3 linked regions of the Homo sapiens genome follow. The protein of the gene in region 2 purifies or fractionates together with the protein of the main gene of each other region. This does not show direct contact. Each region holds a gene or a part of one and is shown on either strand. Other genes may lie near its edges. The genes, in order: IPO5, PRM2 and ZNF638.

Region 1 (3,655 bases), on a different chromosome or scaffold from region 2:
ACTAAGTAACATGGTGAAAAAGGCCCCAGACCGTCAACAGTGTGACTCTAGGCAATCATTTAACACTGGAATTTTAGGTTACTCATCTTTAATATAGTGAAAGCACCACAAAATACAAATGGTTGTTGTGAGCAGTATGTAAATGAACTAGGTAAACCTCAAGGTGTTTTGTTGAGTGAGGTATTACAACAAAATGCACATAGCACCGAAAGACATATCAGTTTAATTTCAAATTACTTATTCATAAATTAAGAGAGGAAATATATCTGACTCCTCTGCTAAAGACTGATAATTACATCAGAATGACAAGTCACATAAATCAGAAATTGAGGCATTTACAAGTCTTTCAGATGCAAGTGGTCACGTAAGTAAGTTCCAAAGGGAATAACTTACCTCATCTTGTAGTGACTCTTCGACCTGTTCATCATAGTCTTCATCTTGTCTTTTAACTAAAACACACCCAAATAAATGTTTTAAATGATTGCCAAGATGGTCAAGGATTATATTCAGAAATAAAAGCATGGAAAACTTACCTTGTCGTAATTCTTGATTTTTAAAATGTTCTTCAAGCTTTGCTTTCAATATACCTCCCAGTTCTTCAAAGTGTTCATTATTAAGGCATCCATCTCCCATTACTTCAATGCACTAATGAGGTTGAGGAAAGAAAGCAATCCATAAGATTTGGGGTGTTTGGAGTCCAAAGTTAAACTCCACTAAGAATCATATGGAAAAATGAACACAGTTCAGTATCCTGGAAGATTATTTACATATGCTTAGCTTGTATTTGTTAGAATGACAGCATTTTAGAGATTGGAGTTAGAAAAAAATATTTTCTTTTGAACACTACTGAGCATACCTAGGTGCCAGGCATCATGCTTGGTACTGAGGATTCAAAGATGGAAAACACACACACACACACACACACACACACAACCAGCTCCTAAGGAACACAATTGCTATATCCATACTCCGTACACACAACATACAAGAACACTGAAGGAAGGGCATTAGAGGTAGAAGAAATAAAATATAGGCAAAGGTATGGAAGCATGCTGTCTTTGGAAAATCAGAAGCAATTCTGAATTACAGGAGTGTAAATAAGGACATATAAAGATGCTGAGAAACTGTAAATCTTCAATCAAGATTGGAGCAAACTAGAGTTGTGCAAAATGGGAGTGACACTGTATGAGAAAGGAAGTGACTCAATGAAGAGGAAGGCAGTGCTTGAGGAAAGGAGAATGAACTGAGAGGAAAAGAAAGGAGACATCTGGAGTAGCCCAAGTGAGGCTATTTCAATGGCATGAAAAAGAGATGGGGCAATGAAAAAAAAAAAAAAGAGAAGAATTGAGGAAAGTGTAAAGAACAGAAACTGGAGATGATACCCAAGCTTCTATAGTTGGATTATTAAGTGCAAGACTAAAATACTAGAGTATTCAGAATTTCTTCTCTTTTTCCAAAGAATGCATGCTTCCATGCTGCTGCCCATATCATTCCCTCTACCTATACTGCCCTTCCAAGGCAAATTTACCCTCTTTAAAACAAACATAATAATACCAAAATATTAAAACAAAAAATTTAACATTTTTATTTTTTAACAAATCATACACTATAGCATATAAAAATTTATTTAGCTGCCTTACATCTGCAATCCCAGCACTCTGGGAGGCCGAGGTGGATCACCTGAGGCCAGGAGTTTGAGACCTGAGGAACATCTACTAAAAATACAAAAAGTAGCCAGGTGTGGTGGTGCATGCCTATAATCCCAACTACTTGGAAGGATGAGGCATGAGAATTGCTTGAACCCAGGAGGTGGAGGTTGCAGTGAGCTGCGATTGCGCCACTGCACTCCAGCCTGGGTGACAGAGCAATACCCTGTCTCAAATTTTTTTTTTTTACTTTTAGCAAGACTAATAAATGAACATACAACCTTATACATATTTTTTAAGAGAAAAATATTCACCTTTGCAAAAGAATGCATTATTTCTGAGAGGACGTCTGAATCTGGTTCTGTACCAATGGCCTTAATTAGAGCATCACACATAAAATGCCACATCTGTGTGAGATACTCAGGACCACGGACTCTTGCACACTCCAGGAGAAGAGGCATGGATTCCGCTGCTGCCACTCGAACACGTTTCATTGTTAAGGAACCTCAAAAGACTGTTTATTATTTTGCTTAAATGTTAAAGGGTTCAATGCACTAAAAGGAGTGCTAGGCAACTTCTGTTTATCTAAGATACCCAAGAGCTTGTGTTAAATATAAAGCATGTATAAAAATAGAAAAGACATACCTCCTGTCTCCTCTGTCACCTGTAATAGTGGCAGGAATGAGTCCAGCAGCAGTGAAGGGCTGCCTATTGCTCAAATGTAAACCAAAATACAAAAATGACTATGGAAGGACCCATGACCATTAGCATGCCTTAAGCTGTACCTACCTCAAAACCTTAGGTACTATCTGTTTCTAATAAAAGCAACTGAAGTATTTCCCTGAAAAAGACCACCGAGGACCTCTTCCTATGCTGGCCTTTTCAGTTTTTAATAAAGATTAAATTGCCTTTCCCTATCTAATCTCATTTATAAAATAAGGTCTTGATAACTTCCTCTTAAAAGCAATCCCGCTTTGTCCTCTGGCATCCTGGGAAGTTAAGTCTTTGTTGGGTAAAAGCTGTCTTCTGTAAAGGATACCACTATAGGATACCGTAAAAGGAATGATGACAAACGGGCTTTGGAGTCAGACAGATCTGGGTTTGTGTCTGTCTACCACTCTCGTGTGTAAAGGCATAAAAATGTACTGGAAAATATTAATTACGGCTATCATTATGTTGAGAAAGATATTGGAACGCAGATGTGGGTGGATCACCTGAGGTCAGGAGTTCGAGACCTGCCTGGCCAACGTGGTGAAAGCCCGTCTCTACTTAAAAACAAAAACAAACAAACAAAAAATACAAAAAATTAGCTGGGCATGGTAGCGCATGTCTGTGATCCCAGCTGCTCAGGAGGCTGAGGCAGAAGAATCGCTTGAACTTGGGAGGTGGAGGTTGCAGTGAGCTAAGATCGTGCCATGCACTCTAGCCTGGGCAACAGAGTGAGACCCTGTGTCAAAAAAGAATGCAGATGTGCCAAGTGATGTTTCCCCGCAAAGGTGCTATCCACATTTGAAATGTAGGGTTCTCACTGCTACAGAAAGCTGACCATCTATCAGTGGTTCTCTAATCTATTAAGACAGGTCTTGCCAGGCACAGTGCTCAGGTGTGTAATCCCATAACTTTGTGGGGCCAAGGCAGGAGGACTGCTTGAGCCCAGGAGTTTGAGACCAGCCTGGGCAACATAGGCAGACCTTATCTCTTAAAAAAAAAAAAAAAAAAAAAAAAAATCAAATCTAGCTGGGCTTGGTGTTGTGCACCTGGGTCCCAGCTACTTGGGAAGTTGTGGTTTCAGTGCGTCCTGATCACGCCACTGCACTCCAGCCTAGGTGACAGAGTGAGACACCATCTCTTAAAATAAAAGTCTTATTTTCTTAACGTTTACCAAAAGATATTTGGGGAAAGTAGCAACTATATATAATTGTAATCATTTGCTAATTATCCTTAAATCCTTAAGTGGGCCACAGAAAGCTGACAAACATAGGATAGGTCACGTTTTCTTTTTCATGTTT
Region 2 (2,997 bases):
TGGGTCTCCAGAGGCTTCAGCCAGCACAGGCCTCACACAGCGCAGCCCATTACTCTGCATTCATCTACTCCTTGCCTTTTGCCGTCTCTGTGCTGACCAAGTTGTTGCTGGAGCATGCCAGACCTGTTTCCCACCTCGAAGCTGTGGCCTGCACTGAGCAGTGCCCCCACCTCTGCCCCCACCGTTTACACTTCCAACCACCCAACACTCAAGATGGGTTGTGTTTTTAAACTGTGGCACACAGTAGGCATTTAAATATGGCCACAAGGTGCCTTGGCATCTTTGTGACTTAATTAGGACTCGATCTGTTCTAACCATTTTCTCCTTTCATGAGGTAGGATCAGGTTCTTCACTGGAGGGGGATCCAGACAGACTAATGTGGCCTTTGACACCATGGAAGGATGCACAATAGACAGGACAGCATCATAGGGTGGCCTCCCAGGCACAGTAACCCTCTCCTAGGTGTCCTGAGAGCATCAGAACTCCCGCCCTACCTGCCTCTGAGGAAGGGCTGCAGAGAAGCCTCTACCCGCCCTGGGCGTGAGGGAAGCCAGGTTTGTGTGATTCGTGCAAAGAAAACCCGACAGGCCAGCGAGTGTCTTGTCAAGCTTTATTGGGCAGGTGACTTTTGCTCGTTTCACTCAGATCTTGTGGGCTTCTCGGCGGCAACTCAGGGCTTGAGCATTTGATGTAGGGGAGTTGCTATGGCCTCACTCGGTGTTTCTTGGGCAGGTGACTTTCTCTTAACTTCCAGCTGGGGGCTTGAGCATTTGATGTAGGGGAATTGCTATGGCCTCACTTGGTGTTTCGGGCGACTTTTTCTTAATTTCCAGCTGGGGGTGAGGGGCCCAGGAAGCTTAGTGCCTTCTGCATGTTCTCTTCCTGGTTCTGCAGCCTTTTGGGAAAGAAAGTTCTGGTTGAGGGGGTCACCTAGGGACTCTGGGTGGGGACGGGGGTTAGGGGGCTGGAGCTTTTGTCAGGTGGGGTGGGTCCCCGCCTCCCTCCTGTGCCTGGGGTGGTCAGGGACATGCAGGGCAAGGCGGGGGCGCAGGCAGACCTCTGCGATGCCTCCTCCGGTGCCTGCAGGAGCGTCTTTTGCGCCTTCTGCAGGAGCGATGCTGCCGCCTGTGGATCCGGTGCAGCCTCCTTCGAGAGCAGTGTCTGCGCCTATAGTGAGACTGGCCATGGGTCCTCTCGTAGACCTCGACGTGCTCCGGGCTCAGCCCTTGCTCCTCTTGGCCGTGGTGTCCTTGCTCTTGCCCATGCAACTGCTGCCTGTACACCTCGTGCGAGCGTTCGCTCAGGCTCCTCACGCGGTATCGGACCATGGTGTTGGGAGATCTGGTGGCTCCTGGGCTGAGGCTGCAGTGGGCCCTGGAGTAGGGGAGGAGGGCGGAGGCCTGCCCACCTGCCCTTGGTGTTACTGTTGGTCTGGTCTGCAAGGCTCCCCGGGAGCTTGTATATAAAGGGGGCGCCCACTATGACTCTGCGGCCCCGCCCAGTCCCCACCCTGCCCAGCCTCCTCTGTGAGGGCAGCACAGGGCCAGGGGTCACAACTAGCAGGGCCCTGGCACCCAAGCTGCAGGGCTGGAAGGGCGAGAGACCCCCTTGCCTTGCCTGTAAAGCATGTCCTCTGTCTCTTGCAGTAGGTGAACCATACAGATGGCAGGTGTTTTATTGCCTAATCCAAGCCCTCATCTCCCCAAGCCGGTGGGTGCGCACATTGTCATTTGGAAGCTTCCTTGCCAACTCACTGCTGTGCCACAGCCACCATGTGGAAGGGACTTCCGTGCTTGGATCTCTGTGCACACAGCTTACTGTTAAGATGGCAACAGCAGCAAACAGTTCCCTAATAGCTCCTATGTGCCAAGCATTGATTCATTTATTTCCCATACATTCACTCATTCTCTCTCTCTCTCTCTCTCTCTCTCTCTCTCCTCTTTTTGTTTTGAGGCACTGTCTGTCGCCCAGGCTGGAGTGCAGTTGTGCAATCATGGATCATAGCAGCCTCTACCCCTCCAGCTCAGATGATCCTGCCACCTCAGCCTCCCGAGTAGCTGGGACTATAGGCGTGTGCTGCCACTCCCAGCTAATTTTTTGTATTTTTTGTGGAGATAGATAGGGTTTCACCATGTTGCCCTGGCTGGTCTCACACTCCTGGCCTCAGTGAGCCTCCCATGTCGGCCTCCCAGAGTGCTGGGATTACAGGTGTGAGCCACCACCCTTGCATTCCTCACTCTTACAATCCTCATTTTCTGTGGGGCAAACAGGCATGAAGAAGTTGAGTTGCTCAAGGCCACTCTGCTGAGAAGGCCAGGCCGGGCCAGCATTCAGACGGAGACAGCCTGGTTTTAGTCATACCCTTGGCTCTCCACCTCCTCCCTAGCCCAGGGAATGCTCCCCTCTCCGCCTCCAAAATATTCATCTTCTCCCCTCCCGCTCGGCCTTGCCGGGGCTTCTCATTGAACTTTGATGATCCCATTAAAGTCCGGGATCAGAATCACAGAAACTGCAAAACCAGTTTCCCTTTCATGGAGGGCAGGGAGAATGTGGGAATGTGGCAGATACACAAATTTAAGGACTTGAAGATGCAGAGATCATCCCAGATGATCTGGGTTGGCCCAGTGCAGTCACGAGGGTCCTTAGAAGAGAGAATAGGGAGGCAGGAGGGTCACAGGAAGAGAAACTGGGAGACACCACACTGCTGGCTTTGAAGATGGAGGGAGAGGCTATAAGCCAAGGGATGCAGGCGGCCTCTAGAAGCTGGGATGGACAAGGAAATGGGTTATCCTCCCCTCGTGCATCCAGGAGGAACACAGCCCTGCTGACCCCTTGATTTTAGCCCCATGAGACTTCTTTCAGAATTCTGACCTGCAGACCTGTAAGATAATGCATTTATGTTGTTTAAAGCTACAAAATTTGTGATGATCTGTCACAGTGGCAATAAGAAACAAATTCAGGAGGCTTAATCTTCAGATCCTTACAGGAGGTGATGGG
Region 3 (3,655 bases), on a different chromosome or scaffold from region 2:
AAATATATTCTTACTGTTGACGTAACTGTCGACAGCTCTCAATATGAGTAGATGTATTTTGATGCTGAATCCAATCCTATTGTAAAAGGAGAAAAGTGTTGAAATTAGAATATTCCTCATGTTGACTAATGAATTAGGCTTTTAAAAAAGACAAATAATATTTTGTTCAAAAATTAAACAAACGTACTCATAAATAGCATTTGGCTGCTCAGTAAAATTTTCACAAACAAAAATTAAAGGCCTTGAAACAAATGCACTTAATACCATACCTCACTGATCCCATTTGAAAATATTTTAGTACAGAAAACATTTTCAAAATCATACCCGTGGATGCTCATTTTGAAATCAATATATAAACTTGGAGAAAATAAAAGCATGGATCAGAAAAAACTTACTGCAAATATAAAAACAACACACCAGAAAACACCAAAAAATCTATAAGTAAAACGGTATCTGTGAAACAGCATCTTCAAAATACAATATTTCAATGACAAATACCTCTAAAATTCACGCTAACAACATCAACAATCAAAAAATGCCGCCGGGCGCAGTGGCTCACGCCTGTAATCCCAGCACTTTGGGAGGCCAAGGAGGGCGGATCACGAGTTCAGGAGATCGACACTACTGTGAAACCCTGTCTCTACTAAAAATACAAAAAATTAGCCAGGCGTTGTGGCGGGCACCTGTAGCCCCAGCGACTCAGGAGGCTGACGCAGGAGAATGGCGTGAACCCGGGAGGCGGAGCTTGCAGTGAGCCGAGATTGCGCCACTGCACTCCAGCCTGGGCGACAGAGCGAGACTCTGTCTCCAAAAAAATAAAAATAAAAATAAAAATAAAATAAAAATGCTACCTGATAGACCAGTACCATTCCATACAAGGTACTCACTATACTGGCAAATAAGATTAGGAAAAACATGGGGAAAAATGCTACTGATCAAATCTATTTTCAAAATTTAAAAGTAACAACATTTCAAAGATACAATATCCCTTACATATAGAGCTTTGAGCTTTACAATTAACGAAATGCTTCTTTTTTTTTTTTCTTTTCTTTTTTTTTTGAGACAGTTTCACTCTTGCTGCCTAGGCTGGAGTGCAATGAGGCGATCTCGGATCACTGCACTCTCCACCTCCTAGGTTCAAGTGATTCTCCTGCCTCAGCCTCCCTAGTAGCTGGAATTAACAGGCATGTGCCACCAAGCCTGGTGAATTTTTGTATTTTTAATAGAGACAGGGTTTCACCATGTTTGTCAGGCTGGTCTCGAACTCCTGACCTCAGGTGATCCACCTGCCTCGGCCTCCCAAAAGTGTTAGGATTACAGGCGTGAGCCACCATGCCCAGCCCAAAATGCTTTCTTATACATTACTTCATTTACAAATAAATCTGTCCTAAAATTACAATGTGTACCCATAAATAACTCTGGAAGATACATCTGGTTAAAAAAAAAAAAAAGCCAATACAGTTTACAAAGATACAGTTTCCAAGGTGAAACAATTAGTTAAAAGCAATATGTATGTTACTCAATGTTTTACTGTTCCTCCAGCATTTGGAAAGGCAGAAAACTTACTAAATAACTTCGTATTTCAACACTTTGCTTAAGGAAAATGTTATTATTTGTTTCCATTTGAAATACATTTTAGTTTAGGTCATTAGAAGTTTCCACAGTTAAAACCACGGTTGACAATAATTTTGGATTCTGCCTTGGCAAGAACTATCTGAAAGAAGGTACACTGATTTGCAATGCTCAGCATCAATTTAAACTCAGCAACAAGGTATGACAAATCCTAAACTATTTCATTAAGCCATGGAACTGATTGTGGACTACAAAAAAGAAATGTTTGTACATCCTGTTTAATAATACAAATAGAAAGCTAGAAGAAGAGTCTCTAGTAGTACTAAAACCCATATTTTTAATATTAATTGGACACTGTTTACATCAAACAGACACACTGGTGCAGGCAGTGGGTTGGGCATGATTTATTTGAACCATAAAGTGTTTTATCTGAATACGTTGCCAACATTTAATAATCCAGAGATTTTTACCCGCAAGTCCAGATTTCCAGCTTTTCTTGAAAAAATAGGAAGATACAGTAATACAGGATATCATTCTTACAGCAACTATCACCTGAAGATGATGGCTGCCCTATTTAAGATATACTCTTCTCAGTTCAACACACATACACACATTCTTAGGCTTGCTTCACAAATTGACATTACTTGCTTTAAGCTCAGTAAACACACCCATCCCACCCCAACTTCTAGACTCTCTAGTAATAGTTTCCACATTATAGTCCAAAAGCAGCACTGCCTCCCCAGAGAAAAAGTGATAATTACCTACTAGCAGGAGATGCTGCAAGGACTGCACAGAATTAGGCAGGCTCAGAATGAAACTGAAAATATATAACTACTCGTATCAGGGCTCACTCACTATTCTCAACAATTTTTTATTGTCGGTACTTTCTCAAACTGAATTATTTCAGTCATTATGACACAGCTCCTAAACCAAGGGAAGTTTCTCCTTTAAAATCTGAACCCCAATTTAACAAGCAAATACATTTCACGTTCTCAAAGTACATCTTCACAGCTATAGTTTCAAAGACTCGAAGGTGGGGAATATACATATTGTCAGATTTACTCAATAGGAAAAAGTTTACAATTGGTAATTTACATTTATTGGCTTCATATTTATGTCATATATACACACACAGGAACACTTACGAGGCTGCAAAATATATCACAGAAACGAGAGGCAGTGTGTACCATCGAAATCCATCTTCACAAATCCCTATCATTTGGCCACTTAGTAGTGAAAAATTCATTACTTAGATGAGCCCCATTCTGTTGTGCTGTTAAAAGGTGTGTCTGTTTTTTAATGGCAATCTATCTAGGTGAGCTCTAATGATGACTAAATGATTTCCTTTCCTCTCAAATTTTTACTTTTATCCTATTAACCCAGGTTTTTACCATCTTATACTTGAACAATTAAAGAAGCTTCCAAGTGGAAGTCCTACTCCACATCATCTCATTTCTATTTACCCTGCATACTTCAGTCAGATCTCCCTAAAATATACTTCCAACATGTCACTTCACTTATCAACAAACTTATTTAGCTTTCTAATGCCTCTCACCTCAAGTCTAAACTCCTAGGCTAGCTCTTCAAAGCCTTTCGTACTTATTTCTAATACGCTCATCACTCTTTCCCAACTGCCTCCTACCACAATGAAATGTAGTCTTCTCTCCGGACCTCTGCCTCTCTGTATGTTGTTGCCGCCAACCCTCCTCTTCTTTTTTTTTTTTTTTATTTTTTTTATTTTTTTTGAGATGGAGTCTCGCTCTGTCACCCAGGCTGGAGTGCAGCGGCGCGATCTCGGCTCACTGCAACCTTCTGCCTCCTGGGTTCAAGCGATTCTCTGCCTCAGCCTCCTGAGTAGCTGGAATTACAGGTGCGCATGACCACACCCGGCTAATTCTTGTATTTTTAGTAGAGACAGGATTTCACCATGTCAGTAAGGGTGGTCTTGAACTCCTGACCTCAGGTGATCCACCTGTCTCGGCCTCCCAAAGTGCTGGGATTACAGGCAGTGAGCCACTGTGCCCGGCCCCCTCCTCCTCTTTATACAGGCATATCTAAAGCCTCAATTCAAGACCCATCTTCA

The links.
Region 1: the proteins of PRM2 (region 2) and IPO5 purify together in Homo sapiens (affinity purification with mass spectrometry; one large-scale study listed by BioGRID and IntAct). This does not show direct contact.
Region 3: the proteins of PRM2 (region 2) and ZNF638 purify together in Homo sapiens (affinity purification with mass spectrometry; one large-scale study listed by BioGRID and IntAct). This does not show direct contact.

Annotation. Positions count from the first base shown.
Region 1 is NC_000013.11:98,012,520-98,016,174, reverse strand, and holds part of IPO5 (importin-5), read right to left. Parts: intron 2,134-3,655; coding exon 1,961-2,133; intron 646-1,960; coding exon 534-645; intron 450-533; coding exon 394-449; intron 1-393. UniProt on the Homo sapiens protein: Functions in nuclear protein import as nuclear transport receptor. Serves as receptor for nuclear localization signals (NLS) in cargo substrates.
Region 2 is NC_000016.10:11,275,043-11,278,039, forward strand, and holds PRM2 (protamine-2), read right to left. Parts: upstream 1,439-2,997; 5' UTR 1,329-1,438; coding exon 1,058-1,328; coding exon of another isoform or gene 1,020-1,057; exon of another isoform or gene 1,011-1,019; intron 940-1,010; coding exon of another isoform or gene 896-939; coding exon 858-895; coding exon of another isoform or gene 788-857; 3' UTR 597-787; downstream 1-596.
Region 3 is NC_000002.12:71,352,140-71,355,794, reverse strand, and holds part of ZNF638 (zinc finger protein 638), read right to left. Parts: intron 77-3,655; coding exon 15-76; intron 1-14.